Regions from separate parts of the Homo sapiens genome. Here all the other regions are reported to be linked to region 1. Evidence: microRNA targets listed by miRTarBase, many of them from high-throughput screens and not tested one by one. Region 1 holds a microRNA gene; each other region holds the end of a gene's coding sequence. Distances are between the middles of the regions.

Evidence for each region. The annotated mature microRNA hsa-miR-6761-5p reads UCUGAGAGAGCUCGAUGGCAG and lies in region 1 at 2,798-2,818, shown strand. An mRNA with a match to its seed (bases 2 to 7 or 8) in the 3' UTR can be bound and repressed. Matches are read on the target gene's strand: a 7mer-m8 pairs with bases 2 to 8, a 7mer-A1 pairs with bases 2 to 7 and ends in A, and an 8mer does both.
Region 2: miRTarBase lists IRAK2 as a target of hsa-miR-6761-5p. Seed matches in the 3' UTR shown: 7mer-m8 at 1,805-1,811.
Region 3: the mRNA of SLC2A14 is a reported target of hsa-miR-6761-5p. Seed matches in the 3' UTR shown: 7mer-A1 at 3,614-3,620 and 7mer-A1 at 2,841-2,847.
Region 4: miRTarBase lists OTUD1 as a target of hsa-miR-6761-5p. Seed matches in the 3' UTR shown: 7mer-A1 at 960-966 and 7mer-m8 at 1,612-1,618.
Region 5: the mRNA of LAMTOR1 is a reported target of hsa-miR-6761-5p. The part of its 3' UTR that is shown has no 7-base or 8-base seed match.
Region 6: miRTarBase lists DCTN3 as a target of hsa-miR-6761-5p. The part of its 3' UTR that is shown has no 7-base or 8-base seed match.

The regions. Positions count from the first base shown.
Region 1 is chr12:111,797,042-111,802,159 of GRCh38, forward strand. It overlaps MIR6761 (microRNA 6761), which reads left to right and starts at 2,793; the gene lies at 2,793-2,864. ALDH2 (aldehyde dehydrogenase 2 family member) reads left to right here. Exons shown (of 13, transcript NM_000690.4): 10 at 1,037-1,201; 11 at 2,865-3,022.
Region 2 is chr3:10,241,319-10,246,436 of GRCh38, forward strand. It overlaps IRAK2 (interleukin 1 receptor associated kinase 2), which reads left to right. Exons shown (of 13, transcript NM_001570.4): 13 at 798-2,427. The coding sequence ends at 910. Among named protein-coding and RNA genes, the nearest start is that of TATDN2, 4.6 kb to the right of the region's middle. RefSeq lists a silencer at 1,238-1,307.
Region 3 is chr12:7,809,960-7,815,077 of GRCh38, forward strand. SLC2A14 (solute carrier family 2 member 14) reads right to left here. Exons shown (of 11, transcript NM_001286234.2): 11 at 2,555-4,575. The coding sequence ends at 4,357. Among named protein-coding and RNA genes, the nearest start is that of NANOG, 23 kb to the left of the region's middle.
Region 4 is chr10:23,440,095-23,445,212 of GRCh38, forward strand. OTUD1 (OTU deubiquitinase 1) reads left to right here. Exons shown (of 1, transcript NM_001145373.3): 1 at 1-2,283. The coding sequence ends at 809. Among named protein-coding and RNA genes, the nearest start is that of OTUD1, 3.6 kb to the left of the region's middle. RefSeq lists a silencer at 1-199.
Region 5 is chr11:72,093,681-72,098,680 of GRCh38, forward strand. LAMTOR1 (late endosomal/lysosomal adaptor, MAPK and MTOR activator 1) reads right to left here. Exons shown (of 5, transcript NM_017907.3): 4 at 4,609-4,735; 5 at 3,612-4,234. The coding sequence ends at 4,142. LRTOMT (leucine rich transmembrane and O-methyltransferase domain containing) reads left to right here. Exons shown (of 9, transcript NM_001145310.4): 4 at 1-21; 5 at 1,268-1,416. The coding sequence starts at 1,383. LRRC51 (leucine rich repeat containing 51) reads left to right here. Exons shown (of 6, transcript NM_145309.6): 4 at 1-21; 5 at 1,268-1,416; 6 at 1,699-3,215. The coding sequence ends at 1,840. Among named protein-coding and RNA genes, the nearest start is that of LAMTOR1, 7.1 kb to the right of the region's middle.
Region 6 is chr9:34,609,288-34,614,390 of GRCh38, forward strand. DCTN3 (dynactin subunit 3) reads right to left here. Exons shown (of 7, transcript NM_007234.5): 6 at 4,755-4,814; 7 at 4,259-4,584. The coding sequence ends at 4,495. RPP25L (ribonuclease P/MRP subunit p25 like) reads right to left here and starts at 2,810. Exons shown (of 2, transcript NM_148178.3): 1 at 2,777-2,810; 2 at 1,208-2,045. The coding sequence starts at 2,009. The coding sequence ends at 1,518. RefSeq lists enhancers at 1,728-2,281, 3,385-3,434, 3,562-3,611 and a silencer at 2,745-2,984.

The DNA of each region.
Region 1 (5,118 bases):
CTCCACCTCCCTGGTTCAAGCGATTCTCCTGCCTCAGCATGTGCCACCATGCCCAGCTAATTTTTGTATTTTTAGTAGAGACGGGGTTTCACTATGTTGGCCAGGCTAGTCTTGAACTCCTGACCTCATGATCTGCCTGCCTCGTCCTCCCAAAGTGCCGAGATTACAGGCGTGAGCCACTGCCCCTGGCCCAAGCTTTCCTTCTTTTTACAGAGTATCTTGGGCCATCTTTCTGTGTCAGTTAGTTCACAGATCTATTAGTGATGACAATATACTGGATGCACCGTAATAATTTTAACCAACCCCTCTACTGATTTATACTTAGAATTGTTTCCATCTTTTGCCTTTACAAAATGCTCCCCCAGCCTGGGCTACAAGGCAAAACCCTGTCTCTACTAAAAATACAAAAATTAGCCCAGCGTAGGGGTGCATGCCTATAGTCCCAGCTACTCGGGAGGCTGAGGTGGGAGGATCATTTGAGCATGAGAGGCAGAGGTTACAGTGAGTGGAGATCGCACCACTGCACTCCAGCCTGGGTGACAGAGTGAGACCCCATCTCAAAAACAAAAATACAAAAAAAAAAAAATACTCCCTAGTGAATATCCTTGTTCATTTCTCTTTGTGCATATGTAGAATAAATTCCTAGAAGTTAAATAGCTGGGCCAAAGGATCTGAGTATATAATTTTTGAGCAATATTAATAAACCACTTGCTCTAAAGGCTGTACCAGTCTGTCATCCTTCTAACAGTATATGTAACGGTCTCTTGCTATCAGTGTATTTTCTTCCTAAACTTTTTGGTAATCTTATAGTTGAAAAGTAAAGATTGATTTGATGTCCTTTTCTCCGGTAGGCTGAGGAAGTTGGGCCTTTTTTGTGTTTTCTGCTATTGGCCCTGTGTGTTTCCTCTTCTGATCTTGCTTTCTTATGACCTTGGTCCATTTCCCAGTTGTCTTGTTGCCTGCATAATTCTAAGCCTGAAGCCTAGGAGAGGTCTGAATCCGATGTCTCCATAACTCTGGGTTCCTTCTCCCACAGGTGGATGAAACTCAGTTTAAGAAGATCCTCGGCTACATCAACACGGGGAAGCAAGAGGGGGCGAAGCTGCTGTGTGGTGGGGGCATTGCTGCTGACCGTGGTTACTTCATCCAGCCCACTGTGTTTGGAGATGTGCAGGATGGCATGACCATCGCCAAGGAGGAGGTGAGCACTTGGGGCCAGTGCTCTGGAAACATTCTTGGCGGGAGGTGAGGTAAACAGTTCAGCCTGGCATCCTGATGCTGTCACCCATCTGCTGGCTTGGGGCCAGATCTCAAGTTATACCCAGAACCAGTGCCCATAACACGCTATTCATAGTATGTATCTGATCTTGTCCCTCCTCTTCAGCTTGTACCCTCTGTCTGGGAGATCGTCTGCATTCCTCAGCATGGCCTGCAGGCCTTGGTGTCCTGGCCCTCAGAGCCAGGAGTCTAGGAATGACATTGTCTGCTCCTTCCCATGACCTTTTTTCTTTCAGTCAGATTCTTGCTCTGTTGCCCAGGCTGGAGTGCAGTGGCATAATCATGGCTCCTTATAGCCTTGAACTCTTGGGCTCAAATGATCCTCCCACCTCAGCCTTCTGAGTAGCTGGGACTACAGGTGCTCACCACCATGCCTGGCTAATTTTAAAAAAATTTTTTAGTACAGGCTGGGTGCAGTTGCTCACGCCTGTAATCCCAACACTTTGGGAGGCCGAAGTGGGTGGATCACCTGAGGTCATGAGTTCGAGACCAGCCTGGCCAACATGGCAAAACCCTGTCTGTATTAAAAATAAGAAAAAATTAGCCCTGCGTGGTGGCGCTTGCTTGAAATCCCAGCTACTCTGGAGGCTGAGGCAGGAGAATCGCTTGAACCTGGGAGGCAGAGGTTTCAGTGAGCCGAGATCGCGCCACTGCACTCCAGCCTAGGCAACAGAGCGGGACTCTGTCTCCAGTTTTAGCCACGCCTGGCTAATTTTTGTATTTTTAGTAAAGACAGGGTTTCACCATGTTGATCAGACTAGTCTCGAACTCCTGACTTCGTGATCTGCCTGCCTCGGCCTCCCAAAGTGCTGGGATTACAGGCATGAGCCACCACGCCCGGCTTATTTTTTCTCTTCTCGTTTTGAGATGGAGTCTCACTCTGTCGCCAGGCTGGAGTGCAGTGGTGCAATCTCAGCTCACTGCAACCTCTGCCTCCCGGGTTCAAGCGATTCTCCTGCCTCAGACCCTACTAGTAGCTGGGATTACAGGCGCACACCACCACGCCCAGCTAATTTTTCTTATTTTCAGTAGAGATGGGGTTTCACCATGTTGGCCAGGCTTGTCTCCAACTCCTGACCTCAGGTGATCCACCTGCCTCAGCCTCCCAAAATGCTGGGATTACAGGTGTGAGCCATCGTGCCTGGCCAAAAATTTTTTTTTTTTTTTTGAGTAAAGACAGGGTCTCTCTGTGTTTGCCAGGCTGGACTCGAACTCCTAGACTCAAGCAGTTCTCCCACCTTGGCCTCCCAAAGTGCTGGGATTACAGGCATGAGCCACAATGCCCAGCTGACTTAAATTCTTTGACACTAAATCTACGTGTCACGTGTGAATAACATACCTGGCAGGATTGTTTAGAAATGGGATACTGTATGTAAAGCCCGGGGCGCACAGGAGGAAGTTGGCCCCTGTTAGCTCCATTCCCTCTGTGTTCTGCTGAGCTTGATGGCTGTTGTCTTCCCCTGGAACTGTTAGAGCATGGCTGGGGGCTTATCCCCCAATCTGGAATCATCTGTTCTGCTCTGAGAGAGCTCGATGGCAGGTGCCTCCGTGTTGCCGAACCCTCCTACGCTGCTCTCTCACTCCAGATCTTCGGGCCAGTGATGCAGATCCTGAAGTTCAAGACCATAGAGGAGGTTGTTGGGAGAGCCAACAATTCCACGTACGGGCTGGCCGCAGCTGTCTTCACAAAGGATTTGGACAAGGCCAATTACCTGTCCCAGGCCCTCCAGGCGGGCACTGTGTGGTAAGAGCCTCCCAGCAGCCCCTCACAACCCAACAGAGATTCCTCAAAGCCAGGGCCTACTGGAATCTGGTGGTCACCATCCTGGAATTTGGGGAGCTGGGCTCAGTTTCTCCTGGGTCAGGGTGTGATGTCGATTTGAGAGGTCCTGCTACCTCACCTCCGAAGGATCAAGCTTCTCTGTGGTGCAAAGGCCCTGCACCTGAACTTGGCAGGCAGCGGAGTGGTGGGGCTCCTCCCCAGCTGCCTCAGGGCAGGAGACCAGAGCAGAGGGACCCATGATTGTGACACTGATCCTAAAAGCTTAGCCTCTGCTTCACACTTAGCCCCCACTAGGATGGCTATATTTTTATTATTTATTTATTTTTAGTTTTATTTTTTCAGACAGAAAAAAATATTCTACCCAGGCTGAAGTGCTGTGGGGTGCGATTATAGCTCACTGCAGCCTTGAACTCCTGGGCTCAAGCAATCCTCCCACCTCTGCCTCCTGAGTAGCTGGGACCACAGGTGTGTACCACCACACCTGGACAATTAAAAAACATTTTTATTTTTTGTAGAGATGAGATCTCGCCATGTTGCCCAGGCTGGGCTATATGTATATATATTTTAAAGTATTGGTAAGGATGTGGAGAAATCGGAACCCTCCTATGTTGCTGATGGGAATGGAAAATGGCACACTCATTGTGGAAAATAATTTGGGAGCTCCTCAAAAAGTTAAACATGAAGCCCCCATATGACCCAGCAATTCCACTCCTAGGTATTTATCCAAGAGAAAGAAAAACGTGCTCCCACATAAAAACGTGTATATGAATCTTCACAGCAGCATTATTTGTAACAGCCAAAAGGTGAACACAACCCAAATGTCCGTCTGTAGATGAATGGATACAGAATGTGATCTGTCCATGCAATGAAATGTGGCTCAGCCACAGAAAGGAATGAAGTAGCTGTATGAGTCTGTTCTCACACTGCTGGTAAAGACATTGCAGAGACCGGGTAATTTATAAAGGAAAGAGGTTTAATGGACTCACACAGTTCCACGTGGCTGGGGAGGCCTCACAATCATGGTGAAAGGTGAAAAGCATGTCTCACGTGGTGGCAGACAAGAGAAGAGAACTTGTGCAGGGAAACTCCCCTTTATAAAACCATCAGATCTTGTGAGACTTACTCACTGTCACAAGAATAGCATGGGAAAGACCTGGCCCCATGATTCAATTACCTCCCACAACACGTGGGAATTGTGGGAGCTACAATTCAAGATGAGATTTGGGTGGGGACAAAGCCAAGCCATATCAGTAGCCATGCATGCAATAGCATGGATTAATCTTGAACATAACATTGAGTGAAAGAACCCAGACTGTCTGGGTGCGGTGGCTCATGCCTGTAATCCCAGCACTTTGGGAAGCCGAGGTGGGTAGGTCACTTGAGGTCAAGAGTTTGAGACCAGCCTGGCCAACATGGTGAAACCTTATCTCTACTAAAAACACAAAACTTAGCTGGCTGTGGTGGCAGGTGCCTGTAGTCCCAGCTACTCGGGAGGCTGAGGCAGGAGAATCGCTTGAACCTGGGAGGCGGAGATTGCAGTGAGTGGAGATCATGCCACTGCGCTCCAGCCTGAGCGATAGAGTGAGACTCCAAAAAAAAAAAAAAAGAACCCAGGCACAAAAGGCCACATGCTGTGTGATTCCATTTACAGTATTATAAATATCTAGAATAGGCGAATCCATAGAGATAGAAAGTATGTTAGTGGTTGCCAGGGGCTGGGGGAGGGAGGAATGGAGAGTGCCTGCCTCCTGGGCACAGGGCTTCTTTCAGTGTGATAGAAATGTTCTGCAATTAGACAGTGGTGATGGTCACACAACACTGTGAATATGCTGTCAACCAGTGATTGTACACTTTAAAATGGTGAATTTTAGGCTGGGTGCAGTGGCTCACCCCTGTAATCCCAGCACTTTGGGAGGCCAAGGTAGACGGATCACGAGATCAGGAGATGGAGACCATCTTGGCCAATGTGGTGAAACCCCGTCTCTACTAAAAATACAAAAATTAGGCCTGGGCCTGGTGGCTCACACCTGTAAGGCCGTGGTGGTTCACACCTGTAA
Region 2 (5,118 bases), not on the chromosome of region 1:
GGAGGCTGAGGCGGGCGGATCACGAGGTCAGGAGATCGAGACCATCCTGGCTAAGATGGTGAAACCCCGTCTCTACTAAAAATACAAAAAATTAGTTGGGCGTGGTGGTGGGCGCCTATAATCCCAGCTACTCAGGAGGCTAAGTCAGGAGAATTGCTTGAACCCAGGAGGCAGAGGTTGCAGTGAGCCGAGATTGAGCCACTGCACTCCAGCCTGGGCAACAGAGTGAGACTCCATCTCAACAAATGATAAATAAATAAATAAATAAATAAATGGGCTGGGTGCTGTGGCTCACAGGCCGGGCGTGGTGGCTCACGCCTGTCTGTAATCCTAGGACTTCGGGAGGCCGAGGCGGGTGGGTTGCCTGAGCTCAGGAGTTCAAGCCTAGTCTGGGCAACACGGTGAAACCCCTTCTCTACTAAAACACAAAAAAATTAACTGTGTGTGTCGTCCAGCCTGAGCAACAGAGTGAGACTCCATCTCAAAAAAAAAAAAAAAAAAAAAAAAAGCCAGGTGTGGTTGTGCACGCCTGTAGTCCCTGCTACTCCGGAGACTGAGGTGGGAGGATCACCTGAACCTGTGAGGTCAAGGTTGCCTTGAGCTGAAATTGTGCCACTGCACTCCAGCCTGGGCAACAAAGTGAGACCCTGTCTCGATAAAAAAAAAAGAAAAAAAAAAAAAGAAATGCTCATTACACTCAGGGCCTGATTCAGAAACCTGATTTAAGTGACTTTAAGAATTATAATAATAGTAACTTTCATTCAAGTCGCTCTTGTTTGCTTTCTGTTGAACATCAGTTACAGAAACTTCGTGGCAAATTGAGATCAATGAGGCCAAAAGGAAACTGATGGAGAATATTCTGCTCTACAAAGAGGAAAAAGTGGACAGCATTGAGCTCTTTGGCCCCTGATGACCGGAACACAGCTGAGGACCCTTGTCCTCAGTTGGAAAGATGAGCATCAGATCAAGAAAAAGGTCTGAGGCAGAATCCAAGATCTGCCAGGAAACACACAACAAAACATCTGCTGTCCTGGGTGGGAGGGAAACTTCATTTCACTGGAATGAGTTGGGAGAGAAAGGCCCTCAGCTTTTAGAGACACAAAAATCCATGAAGTCTCTTCCTTTCTGGGCTTTGTTAGTCAGAGCAGGGGATCAGAGGAGACTGAAGCAGAAACCCTGCACACGGGCCCAGGATGTGGCTGATTTTGTGGTTCCGGGGAGTATGTGATGATAATCACCCCCAGCAGATTCCATTACCTCAGCAGCTCTTGTTCCCCCGCCACTGGCAGTTCTGCAATGCCATAGCATTTTCCAGAGCTAAGATCTCTGGGTTGTATTTGCTGACAGCCTGCAAGCTTGCATGCTCTGAAAGATTTTTTTTAGTTTTTAATTTTTTTGTAGAGATGGGGTCTCGCTTTGTTGGCGCAATCCTCCCACCTCAGACTCCCAAAGTGCTGGAATTACAGTTGGGAGCCACTGTGCCTGGCCTGGAAGACTTTCAACTTGTGTCTCAGTGCAGTTCTTGACTCACCTCTCTGGGCCTCAGGTTCTACAAATGCCAGACACCTAGCGAAGAGCTCTGCAGGCTTTCCACTGCCTGTATTGGAAATCTTGCAATTCACATAATTATTCAGTCACTGCCTGGTACCTTTATCTTCCCATCCCACTAATGTTAGTGTTTTTTAATGGAGCTTTTATTCTGAGAATATGTGTTTGTCTGTTTGTTTGTTTTTTGAGACAGAGTCTCACTTTGTCACCCAGGCTGGAGTGCAGTGGCACGATCTCAGCTCACTGCAAGCTCTGCCTCTCAGGTTCAAGTGATTCTCCTGCCTCAGCCTCCTGAGTAGATGGGACTGTAGGCACCTGCCACTATGCCTGGCTAATTTTTGTGTTTTTAGTAGAGACAGGGTTTCACCATATTGGCCAGGCTGGTCTCGAACTACTGACCTCGTGATCTGCCCGCCTTGGCCTATCAAAGTGTTGGGATTACAGGCTTGAGCCACCGCACCCGGCCGAGAATATGTGTTGTTATTTATGACTGGATTATGAAGAATCAGGAGAATGCATTTCATGTCTGATTCTGCTGCTAATTAAGTCAATCATTTAATTTTTGGGACCTCAGTTTCTTTGTAAGTAAAATAACACCTGCTTGTTCTTCATCCCTGGGCTGTTGGGAGGAACAGATGAGACAGTGGCTATAGAAGCACTTGGAAAATGCACTTGTCCTGTTTTGTAAAATAAAAAGGTATTAAATGTGTATTTCTGCCATGTACCTAATGATTATTCAGTGCGTATATATCTGAAAAGTCATGTTGCAAATCTTTCTGTGAAACAGATGCTATTTTAAATTCACTGGGAGAAATATCCTATTTAAAGTAATCTATAGTAATTTCTTTTTATATAATAAAAATATATTTGTAAAGTCGACAGACAACTTGTAATTAGTTTTGTGTCTGGAAGAATTTGTTTAGAGAAGGCACTCTGTATCCTTGAGATGGGGTAGCAAAGAGCTAGGATCCTGGCTCTTACTGTTGACTGTTAATAGCTGCATGATCTTGGGCCCAGTTAGGGAGTTACTCTGAGGCTCTGTTTCCTCATCTGTACAATGGGAAAAAGAAAACGTACGCATCTTGTAGGGTTGTTGTTGGATGGGTCCTGCCTGGTGAAACATTTGGCAGCTCCCCAGTAAGGACAGCTTTGGCTTGATGTGTGATGTAGCTGAGCTGGGTCCCAGTCCAGGTGGACAGTGATCTATACAGACAGCCCTGTCTTCAGCTCTGGTGTCTGTGAGGATTCAAGGTGAATGTGCATTTTGTGCCCCAAATGGGACCTGGCCTGTTGCGAACACTTTACAATTATAAGCAGAGTGTTTCCAGGGCTGTTTGCGCAATAGAGGGCTGACACCAATAGGTTTGTGGTTATCCAGACATACTTACATTTCTAGACTAGGATTTCATATATTTTTGGAGAAGTCAGTAAATCCCCTTGGGACTTGGATGAAAGCTCTAGACCTTTGCTACATACAGACATACATACATATGCGTTCTGAGTCCATGAATTCCAGACCTTCATGGGCACCATGATGTCTTTTCATGGATCCCCCGTAGGGAAGCCCTGAATTATTTTTTTTTAGGTTAATAGAGGATTTAAAAATCTAAACAGTACAAAGGTTCCATGGTGAGAAGGCAGGCTTTTTCTCAATGGGATCTTAGTCTCCAGTTTCTTGTTCCCAAAGGCAACCACTGTCACTAGGTTGGAGTATCCTTCCAGAGGTGATGGAAAACAGAGGTGATGCTCAACTTAGTCATCAGGGAAATGCAAATCAAGACCTCTATGAGATGCCACTTCACATTCACTAGGATAGCTATAATCAAAAAGACAAAAACAAGTGTTGGCCATGATGTGGAGAAATTGGAGCCCACACACACTGTTGGTGGGAATTGAAAATGGTGAGCACTTTGGAAAACAGTTTGGCACTTCCTCAAAAGGTAAGAATTTCCATATGACCTAGCAATTCTACCCCTAGGTATCTACCCAAGAGAAATGAAAACATGTCCACACAAAAGCCTGCACACCAATGTTTATAACAGCCAAAAAATAGGAACAACCTAAATATCCATCAACTGATAAGTGGATACATGAAATGCGGTCTATTCATGCAATGGAATATTCAGCCATAGAAAAGAATTAAGTACTTGTGAAAAGTAAAGTAGAGGTTCCTCTTCAAAGACTTTCCTCCCCATCTAATTAGGAATAAATAGTAACTTCTCTTAGAAGCAAAATTTATTCAAAGACCTAACATTCTTAAATACCTGCTAGCCATAATAAATCAATGTACTTTATGTTCTTAACTCCCACAATTTAGCCTAAATATTTGCCCTGGCACGGTTATACTGGTGCAAGCAAGCATTAAGTCATAGCCTGTTCCTCTTCCTTATTTGAAAGTGTTTTTACCTTTCTCAGCATTCCACAAGTTACTTCCTCCTTCCTTTGTTCTCCTCTGCTTTTGCCTCTGAAAAAATTCTAAGTTGTTAGCCAATCAAGACAAATACAGAATGTGAAGTCCCGTTTCAGCCAATGGAAACTGGACCCAGAGGTAGGGTGGATACGTCAGGTTATAAATGACCCTGTCTCCTTTGTTGGGTGTACTCGTGGCAAAACTGCTGGCGAGTGTACCCTTTCTGCAGAAAGTGTAAAAATGGCCTTGCTGAGAAAATTATTTATGTTCAAGTGCTATTTCTTTATGGCACTGGGGAACAAGCATTTCAAACATACTGACACGTTACAACATGGATGAACCTTGAGATCATGGTAAGAAAAAGCAAGTCACATATTGTATGATTCCATTTTTAATTTTTTCAGAATAGGCAAATCTATCAAGACAAACTAGATTACAGTCTTGCTGAAATTACAGGAGTGAGCCACCAGGCCAGCTGGTCATACACCTGTTTTCTTTCTTCTTTTTTGTTTTGAGACAGAGTCTCCCTCTGTTGCCTAGGCTGGAGTGCAATGGCACGATATTGGCTCATTGCAACCTCTGCCTTCCAGATTCAAGCGATTCTACTGCCTCAGCCTCCTGAATAGCTGGGATTACAGGCACATGCCACCATGCCCTACTAATTTTTGTATTTCTTTTTAGTAGAGATGGGGTTTCACCATATTGTTGAGGCTGGTCTTGAACTCCTGACCTTGTGATCTGCCCACCTTGGCCTCCCAAATTGCTGGGATTACAGGCGTGAGCCACCATGCCTGCTGCTCATACACTTTAAATGAGTGAACTTTATGGTATATAAATTATATCTTAAAGCTGTTAGAAAGGAACACACAAAGTGGTTACCCTCAGGCATTTGAAAAAAGAAAGCCACATTTACCTTTGTATGCCACTCCTCTCTATTTAGCCACACATGTGTTTTGTTAATGCTTTTCTAGGTCCTTTGTTTTTTCATGTCTTTCTTGGCTATTGCTCCTCAACAGTAAGTTTAGATCACTTCATTCTTTTTGCCTTACATTCCATTGTATGGATATTCCTTAATGTATATAACCAGCTGATAGAGATTGAGGTTTTGTTTTCATTCTAGCTACTACAGACAATGCCACCTTCCAAGGAGATTGTATCAA
Region 3 (5,118 bases), 100 Mb from region 1:
AAGCGATTCTCCTGTCTCGGCCTCCCAAGTAGCTGGGATTACAGGCACATGCCACCGCACTCTGCTAATTTTTGTGTTTTTAGTAGAGATGAGGTTTTTCCATGTGAGCCAGGCTGCTCTAGAACTCCTGGGCACAAGTGATCCGTCCACCTTGGCCTCTCAAAATGCTGGGATTACAGGCGTGAGCCACTGCCCCTGGCCTGACTGTAGGATTTATCAGGCTTTACCCTGTCTAAGTTTATGGGTTTCTGCTCCTACCAGGAAGGTCCTACTCTTTCCCTGCTTTTCTCAGTGTTCCTACCTTTCAATAATAAAAAAACAATTGGCCGGGCGCGGTGGCTCACGCCTGTAATCCCAGCACTTTGGGAGGCCGAGGTGGGCGGATCAGTTGAGCTCAGGTGTTCAAGACCAGCCTGGCCAACATGGTGAAACCCCGTCTCTACAATACTACAAAAATAGCCAGGCATGACAGTGTGTGCCTGTACTCCCAGCTACTGGGGAGGCTGAGGCGGGAGAATTACTTGATCCCTGAAGACTAAGGTTGCAGTGAGCCGAGATCACACCATTGCACTGCAGCCTGGGCAACTGAGAAAGACTCCATCTCAAATAAATAAATAGTTAATTAATTAAAAAAACAATTGTAATGTGAAAGGCTTGGTCGCTCGAATCTGAAGTCCAAGCTAGTCAGGAGGCTGAAGCCGGACAGTTGCTTGAGCCCAGGAGAATAGCCCGGGCAATACAGTGATATCCTGTTCCCCTCCTCCGATAAAAAACAATTATAATCCTTGGGAAGACAAATTTTAGTATAATATACTTTTTTTGTTTTTTGAGATAGGGACTCTGTCACTCAGGCTGGAGTGCAGTGGTGCGATCTTGGCTCATTGCAGACTCAATCGCCTGGACTCAGGTGATTCTCCCACCTCAACCTCCCAAGTAGCTGGGACTACAGGCATGTGCCACCATGCCCGGCTTGTTTTCTTTTGTTTTTTGAGATGGACTCTCCCTCTGTCGCCCAGGCTGGAGTGCAGTGGCACGATCTCGGCTCACTGCAAGCTCCGCCTCCCGGGTTCACTCCATTCTCCTGCCTCAGCCTCCTGAGTAGCTGGGACTACAGGCGCCCGCCGCATGCCCCACTAATTTTTTTTTTGTATTTTTAGTAGAGACGGGGTTTCACCGTGTTAGCCAGGATGGTCTCGATCTCCTGACCTTGTGATCCGCCCGCCTCAGCCTCCCAAATTGCTGGGATTACAGGTGTGAGCCACTGCGCCCGGCCGAAGGATTTTAAGTAGGATAGTGATATACAGTCCGACTTCTGTATCTGCAGATGCAAAGAACTACAGATGGAAAATATTTGGGAAAAAAGACAATACAACTATAAAAAACAATACAGTTTAACAATTATTTACATTGTATTAGGTATTAAAAGTAATCTAGAGATGATTTAAAGTGCATGAGATGATGTGCATAGATTATTTGCATTTAAATCATCACAATAATAATTATATGCATTTTTTTTTGAGACCAAGTCTTGCTCTGTCACCAGGCTGGAGTGCAGTGGCGTGATCTCAGCTCACTGCAAACTCCGCCTCCCAGGTTCAAAGGATTCTCCTGCCTCAGCCTCCTGAGTAACTGGGACTACAGGTGCATGCCACCACACCCAGCTAAGTTTTGTATTTTTAGTAGAGATGGGGTTTCACCATGTTGGCCAAGATGGTCTGGATCTCTTGACCTCGTGATCTGCCCGTCTTGGCCTCGCAAAGTTCTGGGATTACAGGCATAAGCCACTGCACCCAGACTATATGCATTTTATATAAGGGACTTGAGTATCCCTGAATTTTGTTATCTAAGAAGGGGTCTGGGAACCAGTCCCCTGGGGATGGCAAGGGACTGCTGTATGTCACATGGATGCCCTGACAGCAGTGTGGGATGAATTGTAGAGAGCAAAGACTGGAGGAGGAAGGAAGTGGAAAGGAACACGAGAAAAACAGAAAAAAAAAAAAACTAGTTCTCACTGGGGAAAGAAAGCAACATAATTCATCAAGTATGAAAAGCAAGGCACGAAGGCTTTTTCACTTAATCTGCATAATAAACACATATTGCTATTCTCTTTTTTTTTTTGAGACAAAGTCTCACTCTCGTCCCCCAGGCTGGAGTGCAATGGCGCAATCTTGGCTCACTGCAACCTCTGCCTCCTGGGTTCAAGCGATTCTCCTGCCTCAGCCTCCCAAGTAGCTGGGATTATAGGCACCTGCCACCACGCCAGGCTAATTTTTGTATTTTTAGTACAGACAGGGTTTCACCATATTGGCCAGGTGGTCCCAAACTCCCGATCTCAGGTGATCCGCCCTCCTTTGCCTCCCAAAGTGCTGGGATTACAGACATGAGCCACCGGGCCCGGCCAAATATTGCTATTCTCTTATGTATGAGACTCTAAGAACAGAGTCTCATACAAGTCTCAAGGTCACAACAGGTACTGAGTAGCCAACTCAGGATTTAAAGCTGATTTTGTTGTTACAGGAACGGCAAAAAATAAATAAATAATGTGCTTGTGATGTCATGTACATTCAGAATTTTTATTTTAAAACAAAGAATCAAACAAACAATAATGGAAAATCCATATGGAAATATTCACAATCTTCTCAGTGAGAAATAGGAAAACAACTTCCCTGCCTTACTGCCAAACTGAGGAGCCAGAAGTTGACGTGAAGTTGGAAGGCCACCTTTCCAGCTAAACCCCACTCCATAGCTACGTGCATTTTTATTCAAAGGCTCCAGGAGCAGAGGGAACAGTGAGAACTGAGAACCAAAATACTGTCACTGGCAAGGGTTTGGCTAAAGGGTCTGAGATGTGTAAGCACCAAGAAGGGAAAGGGAGACTGAGCAACATATGAAAAAGGGGCTGTAGGAACAAACACAGAGAAAATAAGTCAACAATAACATACTTCCACCCAGAGCAAAGTGACAGTGCACATACATTCATCCTCTCAAGTGTGGGCTGCACTGCACATTGACTCATACTGTCTAAACCTGGTTTATTGGAAAGATTCAAGTCCCCTGAGGGCATTCGGCATAGGACCACAGTGACATGGTAACAGACATACGCAAGCGTGCCGTGAGCCTAAAGCAACAACACACTTTAGATAATAATCGCTCAGAAAAAAATCCTCTCCCAGAGCTGAGGTTACAAATTCCAAGTTTGCTGTAAACATTCTTTGGGGAATTCCTTTAAAGGTATGAGTTAAAATAAAACAGAAAATCAACACCTAAAATCTCCTAAAGAACAAAGTGGAGAAATAATGAATCTCTACCAAGAACCAATTATTTTAGGTTTCTCATTTGGATGGCTCTCCCACTAGATAGGTGGCGGGATTACTTCAAAAGTAATGAGACTACTACAAGGAGTTATTTCGTCCAGTGAGGGGAACAGGCTTTCTAGAAATCACTTTCTCTTCCCTGGACTCCATCCAAAATTAGAACCCATCAACCGCCATTAACTACAATGCCCATATTAGTTAATAATCCTAGATTTCAAGTACTACTACATGTAAACTATTATCTTAAAGATAAAGTTCCAAAGGAAATGAGTAGCTTTATTAAATAGGCATACAACTTTTCTGAGAAATCAAAGAGTTTCCATCTGAAGGACAGAAATTGTTAAGAGGTAATGTACAGACCTCAGGCACCACATCATTTACCCTCCAATAATGAACAACATTTCTCCCTGAATTCTTATTGCACCTTAACCTCTCCAGCATCAAATCTTTTACTCTATAACCTCTCTTTAAACACCTCCCTCTAATCTCAATTTCCTTCTGTTTTTATTATTTGGCAAAATTACACTTAAAAAATAAATATTTATGTAATTAAACCAGAGGATAAGATAAATAAAACTCAAGTTAATTTGCCGCGTAGAGCTGTATGGAAGTGAGGAAGGTGCTCTTACATAAACACCCTCCGGCTTCCACACTCATATGTATCTGCTTCCTGGTAAGTCTGAGGTTGGGGCAACTGCACCTTACTTTTCCTCTCCTATATCCTCTAGTGCGGCAATATCAGAACCCAAGGGAGGAAAAGCTGGCAAAGTTGTCATGTGCCAAGCGGCCAATCCCTCCTGAAATGAAGGTAGGTTCACTCGGTCTCTCCTAAGCAGAAGAGGATGTCCAGGAAATAAAATTTAAAAAGCCATTGAAGATCCAACAAACTGCAGCCTTGGGGTGCTCATGGAGTGCGTGGGATGAGAAAGAAATCAAGTAGCAGCATTCAGAAGCAGTCCTGGGTTCATCCTGATAAAGTCTCTCCCTTGTTGAGGGAGAGGTGGCTTTCCCATGCCGGGAGGGAGGTGGAAGGAGGCATGACTTAGACATTGGTGGTGGTCTCCTTAGCAGGCTCGATGCTGTTCATCCCCATGACGCCGTCCTTCCCAGATCTATCTGCACCGTGTGCCTGCCCTTCAAAGGCCCGTGTGATATCCTCAAAAGTCCTGCCACGGGTCTCAGGGACTTTGAAGAAGGTAAAGGCCAAGAAGGTAATGAGGAAGCCGGTGAAGATAATAAAAACGTAGGCTCCTAAATAGTACTAGTGAAAGGACAGAAAAAAGGAAGGTTGATATAAAAATCTGGTCATTGACAAATACAATTTCCTTCACATTCATATTTCCAATAGGCTTCAAGCTATAACCCTTCCATATTTAATGAAAACATAAAGGTTTCTTCAGAGATTTACTTATGATTCTATTGCTAACTTACTATATTTCTCTGTATTTTTCTTTCTGTCATTTTTTTTCATTAAAGTTAGATGCTTCCAAATGTCTACTGAGTATTTTTGGACTTTTGAGTATTATTATTATTATTATTATTTGGAGATGGAGTCTCACTCTGTCACCCAGGCTGGAGCGCAATGGCAGGATCTCGGCTCACTGCAACCTCCTCCTCTTGGGTTCAAGCGATTCTCCTGTCTCAGCCTCCTGAGTAGCTGGGACTACAGGTGCCCACCAGCACGCCTGGCTAATTTTTGTATTTTTAGCAGAGATGGGGTTTCACCATATTGGCCAGGCTGGTCTCAAACTCCTGACCTTGTAATCTGCCTGCCTTGGCCTCCCAAAGTGCTGGGATTACAGGC
Region 4 (5,118 bases), not on the chromosome of region 1:
CCCCGGGGAGCCCCGATCCCGGCCCCGGTCCGTGGGGCGAAGAGCACTTGGCGGAGAGGGGCCCCAGGGGCTGGGAGAGGGGCGGCGATCGCTGCGACGCGCCCGGTGGGGACGCGGCGCGGAGGCCCGACCCAGAGGCCGAGGCACCCCCCGCCGGGAGCATCGAGGCCGCCCCGAGTAGTGCGGCGGAGCCGGTGATCGTCTCCAGGTCGGATCCCAGAGACGAGAAGCTGGCCCTATACCTGGCCGAGGTGGAGAAGCAGGACAAGTATCTGCGGCAGAGGAATAAGTACCGATTCCACATCATTCCAGACGGCAACTGCCTCTACCGAGCTGTCAGCAAGACGGTGTATGGGGACCAGAGCCTGCACCGGGAGTTGAGGGAGCAGACGGTGCACTACATCGCCGACCATCTCGACCACTTCAGCCCCCTGATTGAGGGCGACGTGGGGGAGTTTATCATCGCTGCTGCCCAAGACGGGGCATGGGCCGGGTACCCGGAGTTGCTGGCCATGGGGCAGATGCTGAATGTGAATATCCATTTAACTACTGGAGGGAGGCTGGAGAGTCCCACGGTGTCTACCATGATTCATTATTTGGGCCCAGAGGATTCCCTGAGGCCTAGTATTTGGCTCAGTTGGCTCAGTAACGGACACTATGATGCTGTATTTGATCACTCCTATCCTAACCCAGAGTACGACAACTGGTGCAAACAAACTCAAGTGCAAAGGAAACGCGACGAAGAACTTGCCAAATCTATGGCCATATCCTTGTCTAAAATGTATATTGAACAAAATGCATGCTCTTGAAATGTCTCAAAACCTTACACCCTGGGAATAATTGCATATATAACTTGTGTTTGGAGAATCACATGAACTTTAATCAGGGTAATAGCACTTTCAAACTTGCTAGTAGATTTTACTGTAGGTGTAATGCCTTAATCATCTTTTTGAATGTTTTCTCAGAGCTGGAGGTTGCTGGGCACCTAAATGATGTTTCATGATAGCTTTGGGTGATTTTACTGCTATTTATAATTTGCTGTATAAAGTGAGCATTACTTAATTTGCAAGCTGATTTCTCACAGTGTAAATTTGTTCATTCCTGGTAGTCTATTTTCTATAAAAATGTATTTTTGCACAACATTTTTAAAAACTGGTGTACCTTCATCTATGACGTGTTCCATTTTGACAAACAGCTTTCAGGCGTAAATCCAGAGAAGTGCTTTATATGAAATGTATTATTTTGAACAGAGTTTGTGATTTGGTAGTTATTTTATGTTGTTGAAATTTGAATTTCACAATTCTTAGATAATTATTTCAAATGGATATTGATGCATTCTTGTTACCAGATGTTTGGCCCATTCCATTTTGATGAAACAGAGCTGTTGTTTTGGAAGTCATTATTTTTCTAGAAATGGCGAATCTTTTAAAGAAAATTACTTAATGGAAGGTTGTGGGAAGGTGTTTTTTTGTGTTTTTTTTTTGGTTTTTGTTTTGTTTTTCCTCTTTTAAGGGATAGTAGCAGGTCTTACTTGAATGAAAGTCTGATATTTGCTGATGGCAGAATGATTATTCTGTACCCTGGTTGATGTGTAGAGTAGATTGTCTGGTGCTCTCAGTTGTTTTTATTTACATTTGTCACGTTGTTGTAAGAGAATGTTAACATGGTATAAAACTCTGTGACAAGATAAGCCTCCTGCTTTATATAACTTCTTGAATCCAGCTAAGAGATTTATAAACTAATGGCATAAATGTCTGGAGCCAACCTTGGCAGTTATAGCAGGAGAACACTGTCTTAATATTTCTTTACATTCTTTCAAAAGGCAAAATAGGATTGCCCTGTATTGATGTAGAAATGTCTGTAAACAGAGCTTGTATGGTTTGCTGGGTCAAACAATGTTTCCAACTTAAAATCAATCTCATTGCCACTTTAACTACTTTTAGTCATATTTATTAAGTAATGCAGTTTGTACTTTTTTTATTTTGTAACATTTTGTGATTTTTTTGTACAAAACTGTATTTGTACAATAGAGCAATTCCCAGCTGATGGAATGAATGAATAAAATGCAAAATTATACTTTTACAATGCCTTTTTGGATAGAGTGGTTTTTAAATTGTGATGTTTGTAGGAAACTTTCTTGCATGTATGCATGTACACAATTTTTTTTTTCCATAAAGATGCCACAGCAATAGAGAGGTTTCCTAAATTATCACATGAAGAGGATAGGCTAATCATGAGTAATTTCAAAGGATAAGTCTGAATAAAATATAATTTAAAAGTGGAGTAATCCAAGAAATTGCTCTCATTATTTCTAATTATAATTTCTGTCTACAGTTATAGCTGTACCTATTGGCTAATGAAAAAGGAAGTGCAAGTTTTGTGTCAGCCAGCAGAATGTCTAATTAAATGTCATACTTTTGTATTCCACTCACTCTCAGTATAGAGTTTAACGTTTTAGAGAGTAACCAAAGAGATGCCCTAATTTTTGTCTAGTCTGGCCTCTTGAGACCACGGGAATCTGTTTTAAGATGTTGAAAAGTGCATGCTATAGTTTGAATATATGTGTCCCACCACCCCAAATTCATGTGTTCGTCCCCATTATGGTGGTATTAAGAGGTTGGGCTTTTGGGGAAGTGATTTAAGGCATGAGCGCTCTGTCTTCATGAATGAATTAGTTGCCTTTTATAAAAAGGTCTGGAAGCAACTAGCTTAGGCCCATTTTGCTGTTCTGTTGTTCTGCCACAGGAGGACACCTAGATGGTGTCATCTGTGAGGAAGGGGCCTCCGCCTGATGTGGAACCTGCGAGCACCTTGATCTTGGGCTTCCCAGCCAACAGACTGTGAGAAATACAAATTTCTGTTCTTTATAAATTATAGGTATTTTGTTGCAGTAGCACAAATGGACTAAGTTGGTGCACCTGTGTGCATAATGTTGGGGTATGTGTAATGCATAAGAAAAGCAGCTATTTTGGATATTTTACTTTTCAGTTATTTAGACATCACAGTCATAGACACAACTGAACTTGATTGAGTTCATTGGTTAACCACATTCTTGGAAGGATGCCGTTGAATATCAAGGAAAGAATTTGTCAACGGTTTAAATGTTTACTAATCACAGATCTCTGGATTTTTGTGTAGGTAAGTTTTGCTTCATGGCTTCAGTAAGTAATTTGGGAAGAAAGAAATTCTATTATTTGAATTACCTGGCTACCCCTTTTCTCCACTTTATTTAGAGCTGTATAACATTTGGAGATGCTTAAAATTTTATACAAGTATGAGTAGAACACACAAGAATTCCTAAAAAGCCTTCTGTAAGCCTATTACTGTTTTAGGTAGCTTACTCTGTGTTCTGTTTCATTTTCAAATTAGGATTCCAAGTCCTGATTTCTTTTCTTTTTTCTTACGTTTTTATTGAGACAGGGTCTCCCTCTGTCACCTAGGCTAGAGTGCAATGGCACAGTCATGGCTCACTGCAGCCTCAACCTCAGAGCTCAAGTGATTCTCCCGAATACCTCAGCCTCCTAAGTAACTGGGGCTACAACGGTCGTCCAGCATCACACCCAGCTAATTTTTAAAAAAATTTTTTAGTAGAGATGTAGTCTCACTATGTTGCCTAGGCTGGTCTTAAATTCCTGAGCTTAAGTGATCCTCCTGCCTCAGCCTCCCAAGGTGGTGGGATTACAGGCATAAGTCACCCTGCCCAGTCCTGTTTTTAAATTTAATTTTAACATTTTGTTTATTATTTTTGAGACAGGGTGTTGTCGTGTCCCCCAGGCTGGAGTGCAGTGGCACAATCATGGCTTACTGCAGCCTCTACCTCCTGGGCTCAAGTTAGCCTCTCACCTTGGCTGCTGAGTAGCTGGGACTATAAGCATGTACCACCATGCTCAGCTAATTTTTTATTATTCATAGAGGTCGGTGGGGCGGGGGTTCGCCCTGTGTTGCCCAGGCTGGTCTTGAACTCCTGGCCTCAGGCAATCCTCCCACCTCAGCCTCCCAAAGTGCTGGGATTACAGGTGTGAATCACACACTCAGCCTTGAAAAAGAAAATCTGGAGATAATTTCATTACTTTGTTCAAGTTTATCTTATGTGCTTTTCCTAAAAAAAAAGTTATACAATTTTTTTCCAAGTTTTGCATTTTGAGAATCATTAGCACTTTACCATGACATTTAGTGCTCATGTGGAAGAAAGGCATTAGGGAAGAAAAATAGATTGTAATCCTTTGGACGTTTGATAATTTGATATGTAGGTAAATGTACTGGATAAATTCAAGTATGTAGCATGTTCACATTAAATAGTTATTTGTTACATCCTAAGTTCAGATGTCATTTTTTTGTACATCCCTAGAATGTCTATCTCAAAGAGGCACTGAGAAACTAGATGACATTTAATTCAGTTTGATTTCCCAAATTTACTAAGCTCAATAGGCACATTCCCTGTTGAATCCCTGGGTTCAAACCCAAGTACCTAGCAGAGCGAGTGCTCAGTAAATTGCTTTTTTCTTTTTTTTTTTTTAGACAGAGTCTTGCTTTGTCGCCCAACCTGGAGTGCAATTGTGTGGTCTTGGCTCAGTGCAACCTCCACCTCCCGGGTTCAAGCAGTTCTCCTGCCTCAGCCTCCCGAGTAGCTGGGATTACAGGTGCCTGCCACCATGCCCAAGTAATTTTTTGTATTTTTATTTATTATTTATTTATTTATTTATTTGAGATGGAGTCTCGCTCTCACCCAGGCTGGAGTGCAGTGGCATGATCTTGGCTCACTGCAACCTCCGCCTCCCGAGTTCAAGTGATTCTCCTGCCTCAGCCTCCTGAATAGCTGAGACTACACGTGCGTGCCACCACGCCCAGCTAATTTTTTTTTTGTATTTTTAGTACAGATGGGGTTTCACCATGTCAGTCAGGATGGTCTCGATACCCTGACCTCGTGATCCGCCTGCCTTGGCCTCCCAAAGTGCTGGGATTACAGACGTGAGCCACTGTGACTGGCCTTGTATTTTTAATATTAGAGACGAGGTTTTGCCATGTTGTTCAGGCTGGTCTCCAACTCCTGACCTTGAGTGATCCACCCACCTCGGCCTCCCAAAGTGCTGGGATTGCAGGCATGAGTCGCTACACCCC
Region 5 (5,000 bases), not on the chromosome of region 1:
GACCTGACTTCCATTGACCCTGTGAGTTCCTAACAGTAGGAATCCAGTCAGGGGAGCCTGAAGCCACTTTGTTCAGCCCCCAACCTCTCCACTCCTACATGTTATCAAGGAAGTAATGAGGCAGCATGGTACAGTCCAAAGCACAAGGCTAGGGGGCCAGACAGATAGATGTAGGTTCAAATCCTGGGTTTGCCTCTTACTGACTGTGACTTTGAGCAAGCTACCTAACCTCTCAAAACTGCAGCCTCCCTGTCGGAAAAATGGGGATAATATGCCAGTATCATAAAGGTTTTGTGAGGATTGAATGAAAATACATGAAAACCACCGGGCACAGCGGCTCACGCCTGTAATCCCAGCACTTTGGGAGGCCGAGGTGGGTGGATCACAAGGTCAAGAGAGATCAAGACCATCCTGGCCAACATGGTGAAACCCCGCCTCTACTAAAAATACAAAAAATTAGCTGGGCGTGGTGGCGGGCGCCTGTAGTCCCAGCTACTCGGGAGGCTGAGGCAGGAGAATCACTTGAACCCAGGAGGCAGAGGTTGCAGTGAGCCGAGATTGCGCCACTGTACTCCAGCCTGGCAACAGAGTGAGACTCCGTCTCAAAAAAAAAAAAAAAGAAAAGAAAATACATGAAAACCAACAAACAACTGGTACATCAGAGGCTGAAGTAAAATTCTAACTGTCACTGCGCACCCACTGTGACCTGTGCTGGGTTCTCCTGTGGAAGAGGTAGTCAATAAAGTACAGCACTTACTTTCTGTGAACTCAGATTCAAGTTTTAAGAAATAAAGTTTGGCCTTTTCTAGTCCAAGATCCCTAAGAGGGGAAAGGAGCTGGAGCATGACTTGGACACTATTCCCCTGGTGTGGTGATCTCAATTTAACCAGTATTTTAAAAGCTTCTTATGTGCCTAGCATGATGCTCTGTCTTCCTGTTGCTTGCTGTGATAGAATCGTAGATCACCAAAGCTGGAAAGGTCTTCAGTGAAGGGGCAACTAAGGCTGAGAGAGGCAAGTCAGTGGCAGTGCTGGTACCCAGGCCCACACTCCTGACCCTCAGATCACAGCTCCTTTTCAGTGTGATGCCCTGTATGTCTTAAAACATAAATAAAAGTAGGTTACAGTCATACAGTATGGCTGTGGAGGGTTGGAGTGGAGGGCAGGTTGTTCCCCACATTCTTCCTTCTCTGCCCACGAGTCAGCCCTGAGCAGAGATTCAGGGTCCTGTCCTGTCTAGCCTGGCTTTTGGTTTCCCTCCCCAACAGGTCCTAACAACTTTCTTCAACCTGAGTGTCCTCTATCTTCACGGCAACAGCATCCAGCGCCTGGGGGAGGTGAATAAGCTGGCTGTCCTTCCTCGGCTCCGTAGCCTGACACTCCATGGGAACCCCATGGAGGAAGAGAAAGGGTATAGGTAAGTGCCCTGCCCCTGGAGGTAGCGTCTAGCTGGGCTCCCCTAAAGGAAAGGAGGAGGAGAAACAAGAAATCTACGACCATTCTTCTGCCATGCTTGGACCTGGGAAGGGAGTAACAGACCTCTAAGCATTCCTTGCTCTCAGTCAGGATAAACCTAATCTTTCCCAAACTATGCTCAAGTCCCTCCATTCCTTGCAGTCAGGGAAGACAACAGCAACTAGTGGAGGGGGAAGGGGATTCTGGTGGGGGTGCTGGCCCCCAGCCTAAGTCTTCCCCACAGGCAATATGTGCTGTGCACCCTGTCCCGTATCACCACGTTCGACTTCAGTGGGGTCACCAAAGCAGACCGCACCACAGCTGAAGTCTGGAAACGCATGAACATCAAGCCCAAGAAGGCCTGGACCAAGCAGAATACACTTTGAGGCTCCCACGACCCTAGTAGTCCTAAAGGCCTAAGCATAGACAGCATGGTTTGACAATAAATAATTTGAGCTGTTGAGCAGATGAGAAGTCACTTACACCTTGTAGAGATGTTCTCTAACTCAGGCAACTGCAAGTAGCTCTAGCCTTTTCTTTTCTTTTTTTTTTTTTTGAGACGGAGTCTCACTCTGTCACACAGGCTGGAGTGCAGTGGCACGATCTTGGCTCACTGCAACCTCAGCCTCCCAGGTTCAAGAGATTCTCCTGCCTCAGCCTCCCCAGTAGCTGTGATTAAAGGCGCCTGCCACCATGACTGGCTAATTTTGTTGTTGTTGTTGTTGTTTTGAGACGGTTTCACTCGTCACCCCAGCTGGAGTGCAGTGGTGCGATCTCAGCTCACTGCAACCTCCGCCTGCTGGGTTCAAGCGATTCTCCTGCCTCAGCCTCCTGAGTAGCTGGGATTACAGGCGCCTGCTACCACATCCAGCTAATTTTTTTTTTTGAGACGGAGTCTCGCTCTGTCACCCAGGCTGGAGTGCAGTGGCACGATCTCGGCTCACTGCAAACTCCGCCTTCCAGGTTCACGCCATTCTCCTGCCTCAGCCTCCCAAGTAGCTGGGACTATAGGCACCTACTACCACGCCTGGCTAATTTTTTGTATTTTTAGTAGAGACGGGGTTTCACCATGTTAGCCAGGATGGTCTCCATCTCCTGACCTTGTGATCCACCCACCTCGGCTTCCCCCAGCTAATTTTTTATATTTTAGTAGAGACAAGGTTTCGCCATGTTGGCCAGGCTGGTCTTGAACTCCTGACCTCAGGTGATCCGTCTGCTTTGGCCTCCCAAAGTGCTGGGATTAGAAGCGTGAGCCACCACGCCCAGCCTTTTTTTGTATTTTTAGTAGAGATGGGGTTTCGCCATGTTGGCCAGGCTGGTCTCAAACTCCTGACCTCAGGTGATCTGCCCACCTCAGCCTCCCAAAGTGCTAGGATTACAGGATAAGCCACTGCACCTGGCCAGCTCTAGTCTTATTTTGCTGAAAAAGGGAGGCAATTGAGGGAAAGGCCTGCTGGCCTGGGACACTGGAGACGTGGGTTTACCACACAGCCTTGGGAAATTTATCTAACTCTCTGGGCCCCTTTGTACTTTTCAGCTTAGAGATTTGGGGGTTAAAGTAGATCAGTAATTTCCAAACTCTTCACAGAGTACCAGGGTCTGTAGAGATGCCTCACAGGCCTCCATGACAGGCCAAGAAGATGGCCTATGATCTCTGAAACCAGCCCCCACTTCAATCAGATCAAAGTAATTCCATTCTGTTTTATATGCTGGGATTCTGCTTAAGATTTCATTTGATAAAAAGAATCTTCTGCTTAAAAACATTTGCTTGCTGACTCCATATTAGGTATTCCCAGAAGAGCCTGGTCTGCTTTCTCTCTCCACCCCCCAACCCGCCATGTCTCCCTTCACCCCCAGGGGCTGTTGGTAATTCCATTGAGTCTGAGGCAGGGCCCCCAAGAATCAAAGCTGCCTCAGATTCAGGTCTGTTCAGCTTTGACAGTGTTCCCATCATCACTGGACAAGGGACAAGAACAGTCTCATCCAGTCTGAGGTTAGCCCAAGCCAGGTCTCAGCTAAGAGCTGACACCCTAAACCCTTGTCTCTTGGGTTCATCTTCAATATCCCTGGAAGATGTCCCCTTCCCCCCATCTTACTCTCATAGACCTAAGTAATCAAAAGTAGAATGGGTAGAACAGAGGGGCCAGAACCAGCACATGGATGAATATACTTCCTTTATCGAGGGTGACAAACCAAAACAAAAAAAGACCAAACATGTAAAAACCCAGGGTTCTAGAAATACAAACTCAATTCATTCAAATTCAAGCTCATCCAGACCCTGGTCACAAACCCTAGTGAGGTGCATGTGAGCACCAAGTCAGGGAGAGGGGGCAGGAGTGACTCTGAGGCCAACAGAGAGGGTGGGAAGGGGATCTCCCTAGGTCCCCTGGTGATCACCCCCCACCCAAACTGGTATCTCCACATTCTCAATGACTATGAAGACATACCAGGCTCTGTCCTTTTGGCCCCCACCCCATCCCTGGCCAGAGCTTCAAAGGCCAGTCCCAAAAGGTTCTACCCTCACTTGCTCAGGCTTCTAGCCTTCCTCTTCTCCTCCTTCTTCACATTTTTCTCTGTGATTAGTAGCAGGTTAGGGTACTGTATAAGCCGCAGTGAGGCTGGGGGCCAAGGGGGTGGGGTAGAGATGGGATGAAGAGAGGAGAAGAGCTGTCCAAGGACCCCTCTCTTCATGGGATCCCAAACTGTACAACCAGCTCCTCTTTTGCGTCCACACGGATCTGAGAAAGTGCACTGTAGGCATAAGCAGCTATCCTGGAGACCTGAGACAGAGAGGGGCCGGGGAGGAGAGGAACAGAGACAGGTGAGGAGGGCAATCAGGAAAAATGGGGAGGGGAGATTAGATGGTGATGGAGAAGGAGGGAATGAAGGGGAACAGGAAGGCAAAGAGAAAGACAGGGATGGGAGAGACAGAAGGAAAAGAACAAAGGGGAGTGAAACAATAAAGGTTGCAGGAAGGAGATAGGAAAGACATAAAAAGTTAAGAGAACGAGGTGGGAGGGAGCTGGGGCCTACAAGGCTACCAGGCTCCCTAACTCCACCTTCCCTACCTCCTCTGAGGCAGAGTGGGTGAACCCTCTGCCATACCCTGGGCAGTGTGAGAAGGGTGGGCAGGGGCAGGTGAGGGGTGTCTCACCTGCTGCAAATCAGAGAACGGGATGGGCTCACTGGCCAGCACTTGGTGGGGCTGGCTGGTAAGAGACGGCAGCGGTGGCAGCTTCTTCCAATGGGTCAGGCTGCTGCTCAGCACAGCCAAGCGGGTGCTGACCAAGAGAGAGGGGGTGGGGGTAGGCAGTTAAGCCACAGTCTGCCCTGCCCAGCCCAGGTAAGCCTCATCCCCTCAGGCCAGAGAAGCAGGGTGTCGAGGAGGGGTATCTGGGAGGGAAGGTCTCAGCTCATCACAGACTCAATCTAGGCCCATCTCCCTTGGCCTCAGCGCCCTCAAGAGTGTCACAGGGTAAACAGGGCTGACATGAATAACTACTGAAGCACCCAAGTGATCTGTGGTCAGTCTCCAGGGCTGCACCA
Region 6 (5,103 bases), not on the chromosome of region 1:
ATTCTCCTGCCTCAGCCTCCCAAGTAACTGGGATTCCAGGCATGCACCACCACGCCCAGCTAATTTCTTGTATTTTTAGTAGAGATGGGGCTTCACCAAGTTGACCAGGCTGGTCTTGACCTCAAGTGATCCACTCGTCTTGGCCTCCCAAAGTGCTGGGACTACAGGTGTGAGCCACTGCGCCCAGCCTGTTTTCTGTTTTTGAGACAGGGTCTCACTCTGTCATCCAGGCCGAAGTACAGTAGCACAATCATGGCTCACTGCAGCCTCAACCTCCCGGGCTCAAGCGATCCTCTTGCCTCAGCCTCCCAAGTAGCTGGGACTAAAGGTGCACACCACTATGCCTAGCTAATTTTTAGATGTTTTTGTAGAGACAGGGTCTCCCTACTATGTTGCCCAGGCTGGTCTCCAACTCCTGGGATCAAGCAATCCTCCTGCCTCAGCCTCCCAAAGTGCTGGGATTACAGGCATCAGCCACTGTGCCCAACCCAAAGATATGATTCTAAGACAGGAAAAAGCATGTTTGCAAACTAGTGGAGTTGAGGATAAATGTGTATACAGACAGGTCTGGAGGTGAAGATGGAACATGAGGGAGTTCGAAAGGCCTCTGTCTCTTCAAAGCAGAGTCCAGCTCCATAGCTGAGATTGGGGCAAGGAAGCTGGAGGGAAGGAGGTGTGAGACAGTTGTTGCATTTGGGATAGGTAAGTCATTAATAACGATAATAGCAATTAACACTTAATAGCACTATGTGCCAGTGTGGTATCTAAATGTCATATATGTATATTTCCTTATGTAATCTCATAACAATCCTATGTGATAAACACTATCGTATTCCTGTTTTATGGATAAGACCACTAAGGCACAGAGCAGTAACTTGCTAATAAGTGGCAGACCAGGATTGAAACCCAGGCAGGTTGGTACCAGAGTCCATGCTCACAACCACTATACTATACTGTATGCTGCAGATGGAGAGAAATGTCTGACCTGGCAGTGTTCCTAAACCAGGCCAAAGCAGGGGCAAATAACTATCCAGGGAATTAGATATATTCAGTACTGACTGAGGCTTCTTGTAGACACTATATTCTCCCAGCACCGGCCTGAGCCTACTACTCTTCCTCTGTCTTCACCCGATCAGCCCCCCGGGGTAAGGGCGGGGACTCCCATTTCTTTAATCCCACTCCACATAGCAGGCTGAGTAGAGGCTCATCAAATAGGTAGAAACTTTATTTCCTAAATCCCTCCCTGGACCTCTTTCAGAAGGCAGTTCAAATGCACTGTAGGTAGAAGGCAGAGGAAGCCCTTATTTAGCAATGCAGAACTTGGCAGAGGCCCCACATCTGTCATTCTTCACAGCAGTCCCTTCCCACATGCTAGAGGGAAGGGGAAGCATGATAGGGAGGTCCACTTTTGTGGACTCAAACCTTGATGGGGATGTTGAGCAGTCACAACGCTTCTCAGAAAAGGCACAAGCACCCCAGACATTCAGGCCCGGAGAACAGGCTGGCTCAGCAGGTCTTCACGATCGGGTGTCTCGAGCCCTTCTTCGGGAACGAGGGCCACAGCTGGAGCTGGGCATGGAACCCAGGCCAGGGGGTGCTCCTGGGGGTTGGTAACCACACTCATTGGGGTCCAGGGGGTCCCGGCTGAGCAGCACCCACACTGCAGGCACATGGCGGCGCACTGTGAGGGGGTCTAGCCCTGTGTCAGGTGAGGCTGGGACCCAGCTGTCCTCAGTCTGAAGGAAACGTAGCTTGGTGAGCTGGTGCAGGCCTGGGACCCGCCGCTTGACAATCTCAGCGCAGCTGACAGCCTTTCCTGCAGCCCTGCCAGAACCTGAGAACACTACATGCCGAGCACTGCCGCCCTCCAACCGACCCAGAGCCAACCCCAGCAGGTTGCGAATTTTGCTGCCATCTCGGACCCGCATCTCAAGGGTATCAGGAGGTAGCTGGGGCATTGGGGAAGGCGCTGGGAGCTCTACAGAGCCAGCTTTCCGGTAGTGCTCCATCCTGCTTGCTGTCTTGTCTGTGACTCTCGCTGCCCACTGCAGGGAAGCATCAGGTAAGTGCTAAGCAATGTGCCCCAAGTCACTGTCCACCATCCCCTATCTCCATCCAGGATATGGCCCTGCTCCCCGTTCCAGACTTCCCAGAAACAGGATCATGTCCCCTTGTCCTTAGCATCTCGTGACAAGGTCCATGCCTGCCGCAGTCTGGGAAAGGGCTGTACCCCATACACCCCGTTCCTCTACAAGGGCCATAACACCCCCACCTCCAATCCTGGAGTCCAAGAGGCAGGATCACATTCCCCAAACACTGAGCTCTTTGGGAAAGTGCCAGGCCCCCTCATCCTAAACTCTCCAGGACTGGGGCTTAGCCCCCCTTATCCTGGGCTCCTTGGAACAGGGCCTGGAACCCTCACCCCAGACTAATACCAATAGAGAGCGCTCCTCACTTGGGGCTCTACAAGGACAGGGACAAGGCCCTTCGCCCCAGGCCCCCCGGGAAACAGCCAAGAACCCTTATCCAGTGCTGCCCCCAAACAGAACGGATCCCCTCTCCCAGAGATTACCAAGGTCAATCTATATCAACCCAGGTCACTCAGAAACTCGGGGGCAGAGGCTCGACTCGGAGGGCTGCTCAGGACATTCCAAGACAGCCTTGGCCGTTTCCATAGCCACGGTCTCTTCCAGGGTCTTGCCGGCCGCTGCAGCCAAGCCACAGGCGTCCCCCAACCCTACGAGCGCCCCTCTGCCCGCCCGGTTCCGGCTCTCACCGAAGCCGCCTCACGCACGATCCGGAGCCAAGATGGCGCGCGGGCCCGGAGCGCACTAAGGCCGCGGGGCCGCGCACGCCCCGAGGGGGCGGGGCGTGAGGGGCGGGGCGTGAGGGACGGGCCCCGAGGCATCTCCGCCGCGGAAACAACCCGCTGGCCAGAGCGCCCCGGACCAGTCCCAGCGGGGATGGGAACACGAGCGCAGCCTCCGCTGTTACGCCCCGGAGGGAGGCAGGACAGTTCCCTGCGGTAGAAAGGAGCGGCCGTCGGGGAAGTCCTGCGTCTGAAGGAGGGGGATCTGGCCCTTAGAAGATGGGAGGGCTGGCGTTAGCTGTTGAGCAAACGGGGAGCTGTGGGTTTCACCGTGGGTGCGAACAAAGGCTTCAGTTTGTAGTGGCTGCTGTTGCATGGGCGAGAGCCTTAGTTACCGACTTCTGAGCTTCGACCTCATCCTGTGGGCGCTGGCGGACCACGGGGGTTTTCCGGGTTTTCCAGGGGCCAGTCGAACCAGATCTTGTGCAGGGAGCCGAGGAGGGAGTGGTGGGGAAATCGGGCCACAGCCCCTGACGACACCTGCCGCGGAGTCTGGGGGCTGAGGGGGCGGGGGTGCCCACGGAGCCTAGTATGGTGCCTGGCGTATGACCGGCGCTCAATATTTGTTAAATGATTTGTTACATTAATGAACCAGAGAAATCGCGGTGGGAATGGAAAAAAGATTAAGTTGGGAGATACTAGTAGGTTCAGTGACGAGTTGGCCACTGTTTGGACGGAGAAGTAGGAAATTCCGATCTAGGGTGACTCCCAGGTTTCAGATCGGTTTGGACACGCTGAATTTGAGGTGCCGGAGAGGTCGCAAAGGCGGGGCGGCCAATGGGCCGTTGGAAAAAGGGTCTGGAGCCAGAGCACTCCCTGAGACCACAAGGGGGCAGCAAACATTTGGTGGACTACGGTGCCAATCTGTTTCTCAACATGCTTGCCCCAGCGCCCCTACTTCCCAACTTCCCCTCCCCAGGACCAAAACTTCCTGCATCCAAACCTCTTAGGCTGCCCTTCTCGGCTCGTGGCAGCAGGTAGGCTCCCAAGAGAGAAATTTAAAGGCCTTTGCACATGCTGCTCCCTTGGCTCTGAAAGTCCCTGGATATCACTTACCAGGTCCCTTCAGTCCCTTTTTTCTTCTGTGTCCACCTGATAGGACTGCCCTTTTCCTTTACTGTCTATCCTGCTAGCCCGTGCAGGGCAGGGATTAGCCCTATCTACTCCCATCATCTGACATTTGGAGGTCTCTTATTGGTAAATGTGGGATAAATGGATACATAAAGGAATATCCTATTCACATAATCAAATGAGAGCCTTCATTTTGAGAGCTCTACACCTGCCAGAAAGCCAGACCAGGATGAGTTTAGTTCCCAGTCAAACGATTAGGCAGGCTGACACCTCTGCCCCCTACCACCTCCATCCTAGACCAAGAAGCCAGCACACTCCTCCAGTCATCTCTATGGTTTATTGTCACTGAAATAAGAACACTGATTGGGGGGAGGGTGGGTGTTGCAAATTGCAAACCTCAGGTAACCTGACCTCCAACTTTAGAGCCCAGAGTACAGAGAGGTGGGCCTTGAAGCCAATAAATACAAAGCTTCCTCTGCCTTGTAACAAAGGCAGGTTGGCATAGGGCCCTGGAGCCTGACTGCCCAGGCCCACTTTGGGATGGGGAGCAGCTATCACTCCTCTGCTGGCTTCACTTGCGTGGCGGCCTCTAGCTGGCAAAGTAGCTCATCCCACTGCACGAATTGCTTGGAGAGAAGCATTGTCTGGTTGTAGGTCAAGGTGAGAATAGGAATCTGAGTGAGGAAGTTCATGGAAAGTGGGGAACAGGCAAACATAGGTGGGTAGGATAGGATGAGAGAGAGCTAGAGGTGGAACAAAAGGACAGGGCTTAGGGACAGCACCCATTAGGGTCCTAGTTGAGCAGAAAGGATACAGTCTTGTTGTATTCCTCCAGGAGAGCCTTGGACTCCTCAGTGATTTCCACACACTGGTCCTGTAGGGCCAAAGTGTAGCACAGAAAGGAACTGGGCAAAGCCCACATCTTCCACTAAACTTCCTGCCTCATCACGGACTCCCACTCCCCATGGAGCCTAAAAAAGATGACGCTTAACCCCAAAGCCAAAGGAGCAAATGGCTATGGGAGCACTTTCAGGCTCCAGGATGGGTGCCCTAACAGCAGTCCAAAGACGGATGGAAAAGGGAGTGGCCATACATTAAGTAAACATTCCCCCTAGTGTATGTCTCTTCTTCTGTCCTTATTTCTGAACTCTCTTTGAACTTTA